Linked DNA regions of Homo sapiens: region 1 is linked to region 2. Evidence: fine-mapped expression QTL. A gene starts in region 2. The other region holds a variant in brackets. All regions are shown on one strand. Distances are from middle to middle.

Region 1 (5,379 bases), 55 kb before region 2:
CATTTTACATGCCATACTCTGCCTCAGTTCAGCTCATACCCCAGCTTTGTTACTCTTTACAAGAACTTGCCTCTCCCTAGATTTCACATTTGCTGTTTATCTTAAAACTTCAAGTATCTAAAGTATTATTTTTAAAAAATGGCCAGTTGTGGTGGCTCACACCTGTAATCCCAACGCTTTGGGAGGCTGAGGTATGTGGATCACCTGAGGTCAGGAGTTTGAGACCACCCTGGCCAACATGGTAAAACCTGTCTCTACTAAAAATACAAAAAAAAAATAGCTTGGCATGGTGGCAGGCACCTGTAATCCCAGCTACTTGGGAGGCTGATACTGGAGAATAGCTTGAACCCAGGAGGCAGAGTTTGCAAGTCGTACCATTGCACTCCAGCCTGGGCGACAGAGTGAGACTCTGTCTCAAAAAAAAAAATTCCAAAATTCCAGCTCCTCTGTTTATCTATTTTTGTTGATACTGTTGTTGTAAAACATAAGTAAAATATATTATTCATCTATGTACATTTCCAAGCTGTGTAGAAGAATTTTTAATAAGACCCAGAGTAAAAAAAGAATGCAAATATGTAGGGGCCAGCCCTACAGGGTCTGTGGATCTTTCTCCCCATGTGCAGAGATGAGAGATCGTAGAAATAAAGGCACAAGACAAAGAGATAGAAGAAAAAACAGCCGGACCCAGGGGACCACTACCACCAAGACACAGACTAGAAGTGGCCCCGAATGCCTGGCTCCGCTGTTATTTATTGGATACAAGGCAAAAGGGGAAGGGTAAGGAGTGTGAGTCATCTGCAATGATTGATAAGGTCATGTGGGTCACGTGTCCACCAGACAGAGGGCACTTCCCTGTTTGGCAGCCGAGGCGGAGAGAGAGAGAGGACAGCTTAGGTCATTATTTATTCCATTCTCTTCTCAGAAAGATCAAAGACTTTAATACTTTCACTAATTCTGCTACTGCTATCTAGAGGGCGGAGCCAGGTGTACAGAGTGGAACATGAAAGTGAAACAGGAGTGTGACCGCTGAAGCACAGCATCACAGAGAGACGTTTAGGCCTCTGGAGGGCTGCGGGCAGGTTTGACTGATGTCAGGCCTTCCACAAGAGGTGGTGGAGCAGAGTCTTCTCTAACTCCCCCGGGGAAAGGGAGACTCCCTTTCCAGGTCTTCTAAGTAATGGGTAATGGGTGCCTTCCCAGGCACTGGCGCTACCGCTAGACCGAGGAGCCCTCTAGTGGCCCTGTCCGGGCGTGACAGAGGCTCACACTCCTGTCTTCTGGTCACTTCTCACTGTGTCCCTTCAGCTCCTATTGCTGTATGGCCTGGTTTTTCCTAGGTTATAATTGTAGAGCAAGGATTATTATAATGTTGGAATAAAGAGTAATGCTACAGACTGATGATTAATGATATTCATATATAATCATATCTATAACCTATTTCTAGTACAACTATTCTTATTTTACATATTCTCTTCATTACACTGGAACAGCTTGTGCCCTCAGTCTCTTGCCTCAGCACCTGGGTGGCTTGCCGCCCAGACAAATATTGTTAAGCTTCTTAATAGAAAAACAAATTATGGTAAATGTGTTCACTGGAATACTACCCGTCATTTATAATAAATTAATGCCTGATACACAGAGCAACAAGGTAAAATATCTAAGTATTTATGTTGAGTAAAATAAGCTAAACAAATAAGAATATATACTATGTAATTTCATTTTTATAAATTCTGATAAATAAAAATGCATCTGAAGTAAAATAATGAAGATAAGTAGTTGCCTGGGGTAATGGTAGAAGAAGGGAGGGGGAGAGGAGGAGGAATACAGCAGAACAAGGGGAAATGTTGAGAAGAATTCACTTGTCCACTTTCTTGGTAATGATAGCAGTTACATCATTTTTATTAGTTGTACATTTTAAATATGTGAAGTTTATTATCTTTCAATTAAGCCTCATAAAATGTCTTACAAGCAAACAAATGGAAACTTAGACAAGGAAAGAGTAATAGAAAGACAGAAAAAATAAGTTCAATGTCAGAAGTACCTGAAAATTAATGTGCCTGGATCCTAGTTCTCTCCATATTTTCAGAAGAGTGCTGGAGGGCAGCAAAACCACACATGCTCTTATTACGGAATGTGGGTTCTGATAAAAACACTAGACACATCCAGCTTTGTCCTGGAGTTGGTTTAGGGGGATGTCAGAGACAG[T/C]GATGAAGAGCACAGGGCCAGATACCGGGGTTCACTCATCCCAGACATGAGCTCCGAGACGCATACAGAGCCCCCCCATGTGTGGGTTTACTTCCACTTCTGTAAATGGAGAAAATATTGTCTCCTACAGAACATAGTTTACATGAATATTTAAAATGAAATAGGGTGATTAGTGCAAAGTGTTTATCACAGCACAATTTCATAATAAGACAGCATATTTTCCAAATGCAATCATTGCCAGCAAACTTCTACAGGGCACCGTCGTCTTATCTGGGTACAGCCTACTCCTCAAGGGTCCCACCCTAGAGCTTGCTATATAGTAGGAGATATGCAAATAGGGCCCTCCCTCTACTGATGAAAACCAACCCAACCCTGACCCTGCAGCTCTCAGAGAGGTGCCTTAGCCCTGGATTCCAAGGCATTTCCACTTGGTGATCAGCACTGAACACAGAGGACTCACCATGGAGTTGGGGCTGTGCTGGGTTTTCCTTGTTGCTATTTTAGAAGGTGATTCATGGAAAACTAGAGAGATTTAGTGTGTGTGGATATGAGTGAGAGAAACAGTGGATATGTGTGGCAGTTTCTGACCTTGGTGTCTCTTTGTTTGCAGGTGTCCAGTGTGAGGTGCAGCTGGTGGAGTCTGGGGGAGGCTTGGTACAGCCTGGAGGGTCCCTGAGACTCTCCTGTGCAGCCTCTGGATTCACCTTCAGTAGTTATGAAATGAACTGGGTCCGCCAGGCTCCAGGGAAGGGGCTGGAGTGGGTTTCATACATTAGTAGTAGTGGTAGTACCATATACTACGCAGACTCTGTGAAGGGCCGATTCACCATCTCCAGAGACAACGCCAAGAACTCACTGTATCTGCAAATGAACAGCCTGAGAGCCGAGGACACGGCTGTTTATTACTGTGCGAGAGACACAGTGAGGGGAAGTCAGTGTGAGCCCAGACACAAACCTCCCTGCAGGGGTCCCTTGGGACCACCAGGGGGCGACAGCACACTGAGCACGGGGCTGTCTCCAGGGCAGGTGCAGGTGCTGCTGAGGGCTGGCTTCCTGTGATGGCCTGGGGCGGCCTCATTGTCAAATTTCCCCGGGGAACTTCTCCAGATTTACAATCCTGTACTAATATTTGATGTCTCTAAATGCAACCTTTTTTTTCCTTTTTGTGTCTGTTTTTTTTTTTTAAAACAGGAGGACACATCCTCACCTCCACAGAAGCCACAGTGTCACTTTGGGGGCAGAAATAATCCTTTCGTGGTCAACAGGGTGAGAGTTTTGAGGAATCCCAGGGAAACCTGGGGAATGTTTTCCAATTAGACTCAGGGCAGAGACCTCCATGGGAATCTCTGATTAGAACAGGCTTTGAGTTCTGATGGGAGCCAAGAGAGAGGCTCACCCAGGGTCAGGGTTCTTAAAACCTGATGGTTTTCACAGCAATCCCCCTTCATCTTGTGAAACTGGGCACATCTGACTCAGACTGATTCAGTTGACCCTCTTTCTGCTAATCCATTTTCCTTCCCAGTAGACTTGATTCTCACAGATCCCTTTCTTCTTCTCTTTCCTGAAAACAGAGGATGTGTTTTCTGTAGTCTAAATTCCAAGGCTCAGGTCCGCAGGAGCTGGGTAGGCTGAGGGGTCTTCCTCACTCACTATTGCCTGGAAAATCCTGCTGTCTTCTGTGCATGGAGGCATTTGGAAAATGAAGCAGGCATTAGTCATGAAGGGAATAATACTAGTTTTCTCCAATGGGATGTTGATGTAGAGCTGATCTTATGCTTCTCACACTGTCACAAAGTTTGGACTCTCACCTGTGACTTTGAGGAGAGCTTGTGATACCTTATCTTGTTTTAATATGAATAGACTCTCCCTTAGCTCAGGAAGCTGGAACAGACTCCATTTGGCTCCTTCATTTGTAAGACATCAAGGGCTCCTCACCCACCCCCTTCCTCAAGGACTTAACTTGTTTAAGCTGACTCCCAGCATCTCAAAGAGTGCGATTAACTGATAAGGTACTGTGGCAAGCTGTGTCCGCAGTTCCCAGGAATTTGGCCAGGTGATGGTACCCTAAAGCCCCTGCATTTGTGTCTGGCAGATAACACCCAGAGCCCCCACACCTATCATCTTGTGATGAATTTAAAGCCCCTGCACCTGGAACTGTTTGCCTGTAACCATTTGTCCTTTCAACTTTTTTGCCTGTTTTACTCCTGTTAGAATGCTACAGTTAGGCTCCCCCTCCCCTCTCTAAACCAAAGTATAAAAGAAAATCTAGCACCTTCTTCGGGGCTGAGAGAATTTCCAGCGTTAGCCATCTCTCAGTTGCCAGCTAATAAAGGACTCCTGAATTCATCTCAAAGTGCGGCGTTTCTCTCTAACTCGCTCGGTTACAACAAGCTGAGGATGGACACTCCATTGTGCAGTGAGCTCTGGGTGACAGTAATCGTAGGGTCTCCCCGGGCAGCCTAAGGTCAATACTGCTGGCCGTCGGGAAAGACAGGCTGGAATTCCTGGGAAGACCTGCATCTGCCATCTACCACGGAGTCCTATGGTCTTCTGTTACACTCTCTTTGAATCAGCACCACCTAGATTATCTAAAACACTCTTTGTGACTTCATGACTGGGAAAAAATAATGGCAGTCTCTACTAACACCTGTGTTAAGCCATGGGAGCAACACCTAGGCTAGTGTGTGATTGAGTAGTTGAGACTGTGGTCTAGTCAAGGTGACACATAAAATTGATTGTTGCCATTATGATATTTTATTTTATATTTGACAATATAATCATGCTCATATTATAAATATTTCTGTTACATTATTTGTGTCAGAGGCTTTGGAACCAGAACAACTTCATCTTGAATAAGGGGTAGGAAAAATAAGACTGAGACCTGCTGGGCTACATTCCCAGTAAGCTAAGGCGTTCTTAGTCACAGGATGAGATAGGAGGTCTGCACAAGATCCAGGTCATAAAGACCTTGCTAATAAAGTTTACAGTAAAGAAACTGGGCTGAAGCCCACCAAAACCAAGATGGTGACAAAAGTGACCTCTGTTTGTCCTCATTGCTCATTATATGCTAAGTATTATGCTTTAACATTCTAAAAGACACTCCCCACAGAGCCATGACAGTTTACAAATGCCATAGCAACATCAGGAAGTTTCCCTAGAAACTAAAGAGTGGAG
Region 2 (5,379 bases):
ACAGCCAAAGGTAACACTTGTGTATTAATGAACACTGAATGTTGCATATATATACAAGATTAGTCCCACAATATAACTCAAGCTATGCAAGCATTAGATACCCATATTTCTGCTAGAGATGGATGCCCTCTCTCAGAACCCCATGACAGCATGGTTTAGTTGACTTCCTAACACATGGAAGAGTTTCATATATAGTAGAGCTGGTATTCTGTTCATTGCTATCTTCAATTGCTATGGATTTTATTGCTATCTTGCACTTTAAGTGAGAATGTAATACTGACCTTCTCAAAAACTCCTAGGTCCTTGCACCATAATGCTCCAACAAACACCTACTGTAATTCCGGAGACTCCAGAATATTTCCAACTCCAGTTTAATGGATTCCCTTCCAATACATACAACCTATGCCCTTTCTAAAGAAGTAGCCAGAATGACTATGACACATGTTTTCCATAGAAACGAAATGGAATTTGACAGTGGGGAATGATATACAGGCAGCTTAATTTCAAAATGCATTTTAAACTTAGTATTTGAGGTTTTAATATTATTTTTTATACTCCCTGAAACCTGAAATTTCACACTTACATTTTAATTCAGACTTAATAGCAACAAATAACCAGAACACATGAATTGCCTGTAATCTCTATACCTTGCATTGTAAGCCACATTTCAAGTGTAACCTTACTTGTCAGCACAGTATGTTTACCACAGGCATAATTGCTTGTCCTGACTGTCCAGAAGGCAGGGTGGTATTAAGTATGCGGCCTCTGGAGCTGGGAAGTCTGGCTTTGTATACCGTCTCTGCCACTGCTAACTGGAGGACAATGGGCCAGTTACTTCCTGTACCCCAGTTTTCTCATATGTAAAGTAGGGTTGTTGTAAGAATGAAATTAGTTAATATTTAGTACCTAACAACTAATAGGCATTACATGGTAGCTATTGGTATTGCTATCGTCAGAGAACACACAGGAGTCCATTGTTATTTTTACCCTCCCCCTCCAAACAAAATGTGTAAGACACTAGACATGGTAGCTCTGTAACGGGGTTCGTCATGTATTAAACTGTGTACCCAAATGATATGTCAAAGTCCTGACAACCAGCACTTCAGAACACGTCCTTATTTGGAAATATGGTAGCTGGAGATGTTATTAGTGAAGATGAGGTCTTACTTGAGCAGGGCAGGCCCTCAATGTGGGAAGATGGGTGTCTTTCTAAGTACAAGGAAATTTGGACACAGAGACAGAGACATACAGTGTGCCATATGACAGCAGAGGCAAAGATCAGAGTGGTGCAGCAGTAAACCAATGCATGTCCGGGATTACCAGTCACCTCCACAAGTGAGGAAAGGGCAAGGAAGAATTCTCCTGAGTCTCAGAGGGAGTGCAGCCCAGCTCACACTTGATTTTGGACTTCTAGTCTCTAGAACTGTGAGAGAATACAGTCCTGTCATTTTTAAGCCACCCAGTTTGTAGTATTTCATTTTGGCAGCCCTAGGATATTCATACAGAATTCTTCACCCAAAAGGAAGCACTCTTTCACACAAACAGTCAAAGTCCTGGATGACAGACAACCTGGAGACTGCAAACCTCCAAGGAATCAAAGGAAGTTCTATAAATTCTAGGGGCCCCATCTTTCAAAGGCTGCTCCTCAAGTCCACACCCACACTTTGGAAGGAGAATCCTGCTCTTGGACATGGGATCCTTAGTGAGCCAACTGCCAATAATCCAACATCGTCATGAATTAAAGATCTCTGACATTTCCTCTTCACCAAGGGGAATTCTGTCAAGTAGTAAGTAAAACCCTTCTTCAGTAATCTCCACACCAAACAGTTCTGCATGGCTTGGGACGCCTCAGGAAACTTATAATCATGGCAGAAGAAAAAGGGGAAGCAAGGCAGTCATACATGGTGGCAGAAGAGAGGTTAAACTTTTCTGTCTCTCTTGGGTGTAAAGATATAATCTTGAGGCAAACAGCAGAATCAATTTTCTTACGCCTTGAAATAGACTCCACCTTTCTCCCTTTCACCATAAATATTCCCTTCACATTAATCTAACTTTATGTTTGCATCGAACTATGTGCCTTTTTGGAAGTTCCGGAAGCTAATTTGAGACAGATAGACAAAGTCGGGAGACCCTGATGCAGAATTCCAGAGGTGACTTCAATGTTGCTAGTTAACAACCCAGGCATTGCCCAGATGATGCCAGCCCAAGATCTAGGTGGACTGGGATGCCAGAGAGCCGCCAGAACAAGACGCACAGACCTGGTTCTCAGCCCAAATCTTGCATGCCTTTCTTACCAACTTTTCCTTTTTTAAACCCCTGCCTTTCCTTCAAAATTCAAGTGGTTGCTTGGGATGGGAATGCGGTCACTTCCCCTTTACCATTATGGTTAATACAATAATCTTTGTACCAGATCTCTCTCTTGTTAATTGGATCCTGCAGGTGGCAGATTCCGGACCAGAGTGAGGTTAGAAACTGAATGCACATACTGGGTGGTTCACAGACACGGTGTTCTGTGAAGTTTATGGGTGGATTCCTGGGGAAGCCTGCAAGCCTGTTAGTGATTAGCAGAACCGCATCCAGCTACTGGGATCTGCACGCCAGGTGCCGTGAGCCCCTCACCATGTTCCCTGGTCCCAGCTGCCCGCGGATGGTTCAGCCTTGACAACGGGCTCGGTGTTCTGGGTGGTGGGAGAGCAAGGGGGCCCCTTGGGCAGCGTGCTACAGGGCTGTGAATCCAGGGGCCCACCCGGTGTTCCCTGTGGAGTCACTGAGGGAATGAGGGGCTTCTCAGGGCACAGAGCTGTGCCGCCTTTGTGCAGTGGTGGCTGAATACAGTGACACTGGGCGCGTGGTGAGAAGCGGGGCAAGGTCAGTTCACTGGACCCTCCGCCCTGAGCCTCAGATGAGTCGGGGGTCCCCAGACAGGCCCGGCCTCTGCCCTGCGGCGGACACTGGAGCCTTTGCTGTGGCTGCCACCGAGGAGCCTTGACCTCAAAGCAGCGGGAACCTCTCTACCCACCTCGGAAACCTGAAGGCAGCGGCGGCCTCTCCCAGCCAGGACCTCGCCGGCATCCGGGTCTCCAGGCCCAACCCTGTACCACATAAAGGAAGTCCCCGCTGAGCTACCGGCGGGACACAGCGCCGTTGGGTGGGCGGGCGCGGCGGGGCGGGAAGCACGGAGCAGCTGCCACAGAGATGCGCGGGGGCTGTCGGGAAGTGGGCGGTCCGGGAGGCGCGGGGCTGATGGGACGTGGGCGGTCCGGGGACGCGCGGGGGATGGCGGGACGTCGGCGATCGGAGATGCCAGGGGGCAGCTGGGACGTGGGCGGTCTGGAGAGGCGCGGGGGCAGCTGAGATGCAGGTGGTCCGGGACGCGCGGGGGCTGGCGGGTTGTGGGCGGTCCAGGGATGCGAGGGGGCAGCTGGGACGTGGGAGTTCCGGGGACGCGTGGGGTCGCCAGGAAGCGGGGTCTAGGACTTAGATCCGCTTTCTCTTCAGGCCATGCAGCCCCGAAGCTCCGAATCCTGGGATGACTCCTGTCCATGTTGGAAGGGACCCTGCCAGTCCTGGCAAGGTTCAAAGGCCTTAGGGCAAGAAATGTTAGTAGAGTCCTGGAAGACGATGTGGGGAACGGGTAGCGGCCACCGGATGGTGATCGTTCTTCTACAAGACCTTGACATGGATGGGGAGAAACAGAGAAGAACCTTCCAAGTTTGTCCCACTGGACATGCCCACCACACTTTACCAGCCCTTTCTAGAAGGCCTGTGCGTAACACATGAAAAAGCTCCGCTCGACCTTTCCCTGACCTTTTAAAAGAAAACATTTGCTGCATCTAATCCGCCTAGATATAAGGAGGTTCCCAAATGTATGACAGAGTCAGAAAATTACATGTCTTGTAAGTTACCATGTGCTTGTCTTTTGTTTTCCGTTTTTTTTCGTTTTTTTGTTTTTTGTTTTTGAGACGGAGTCTCACTCTGTCGCCCAGGCTGGAGTGCAGTGGCAGGATCTTGGCTCACTGCAACCTCTGCTTCCTGAGTTTCAACAATTGTGCTGCCTCAGCCTCCCGAGTAGCTTGGATTACAAGTGTGCACCACCACGCCTGGCTAATTTTTGTAGTTTTTAGTAGAGATGGGGTTTTGCCACGTTGGCCAGGCTGGTCTTGAACTCCTGACCTCAGGTGAGCCACCCACCTTGGCCTCTCAAAGTGCTGGGATTACAGGTGTGAGCCACCGTGCCTGGCCGTAAGTTACCATGTGCTTTTTAAAAAAATCATAGCAAAGGGGTGTCTTCTGGAAATGACATTTTGAAATGGTGTTATTAGACCACCCCTGGAAGGGACACAGTAACCACACGTCCACGTTCGTTCAGTGGGTGAGAGGACATGGAGGGGAGACCTGGGCAGGAAGGGAAGAGGGTTCCATGCCAGGCTGCTCATATTTAGAAGACATTTTCATATCATTGTCATTGTTTTCTTGTGTGCGTTTTATTCCTCGCTATTGTATACATCATTGGAAATTCTAAGTATTCTTTTGAAATATCTAGTCTTTCTAGATGTTCTGAAGTGCCTGATGTATGTTAAAATTACAGGTGGTAAAATAATAAATTTTGTAAATATCTTTTTGTTAAAATTCATATGCAGTGTTTTATTTTATTTTGATGTTGGTGGGGGGTGGGGAGGATGGCCAAATCCCTGCTTGATCAACACACATTGCGTTTGTGCTCTGGTTCAGGGGAGGAGAGAGGAGGAGAAAGTGCAGACTTCCAGGCCTCTGTGCGCACCGGGAGGAGAGATTAATGATCATCTCTTCTGTCTGTGTGTTTGTTTTATTTATCTATGGATATCCTGTGTATAAAGGATGAACAAGTCCTATTTATAACATCTAATCTTTTCAGGTGTTAAGTTGCCAGTGTATGACGGAAGCAGCGTTATTAAACGAACGCAGCTTGTACATATTGTGTTAAAATTCATAAAAAGCCAGTCTTCTGAAAAGAACCCTTGGGCCCTCCCTCCGCAGCCTCCGGCGCCAGCTGCAGGAAGACCTGGCCAGGGGAAGGCGGGCGGCACAAGCTGCTGCTGGCTGTGGGGAAGGCGGTGGAGCCCAGGCCTCCACAGGCTCCCCACAGGCTCCCCACAGGCTCGCGCGGCTCTGGTCGCTGGGCTCCGCACGGGCCGCGTGGGGGCGCCTGCTGGGAGCGAGGAGGCGCCATCCTGGCTCGCCTGCTCCAGGAGGACGCTCTGGGCCTGCGCAGATGCAGTTCTCCAGGATGGGCGCGGGCGCTGGGGGCCGCGCTCCTTGGGCTGCTGCGCCTCCACTGAGCCGCCTGGGTGTGAGGACCTCGCGCCGGCGCCTCCGGGAAGGACGCGGAGCCGCCGCGGC

What was found. PIP is the estimated chance that this variant, and not a neighbour inherited with it, causes the effect. A credible set is the group of variants that fine-mapping cannot tell apart.
Region 1: its variant is the best candidate, but not a certain one, in a credible set for the expression of LINC00221 in whole blood (TOPMed, PIP 0.70).

Annotation. Positions count from the first base shown.
Region 1 is chr14:106,535,553-106,540,931 of GRCh38, reverse strand. It overlaps IGH and IGHV3-48. Among named protein-coding and RNA genes, the nearest start is that of LINC00221, 56 kb to the right of the region's middle. The variant T/C (reference allele first, on the strand shown) is at 2,206.
Region 2 is chr14:106,480,278-106,485,656 of GRCh38, reverse strand. It overlaps LINC00221 (long intergenic non-protein coding RNA 221), which reads right to left and starts at 3,218. Exons shown (of 3, transcript NR_027457.2): 1 at 3,020-3,218. It also overlaps IGH.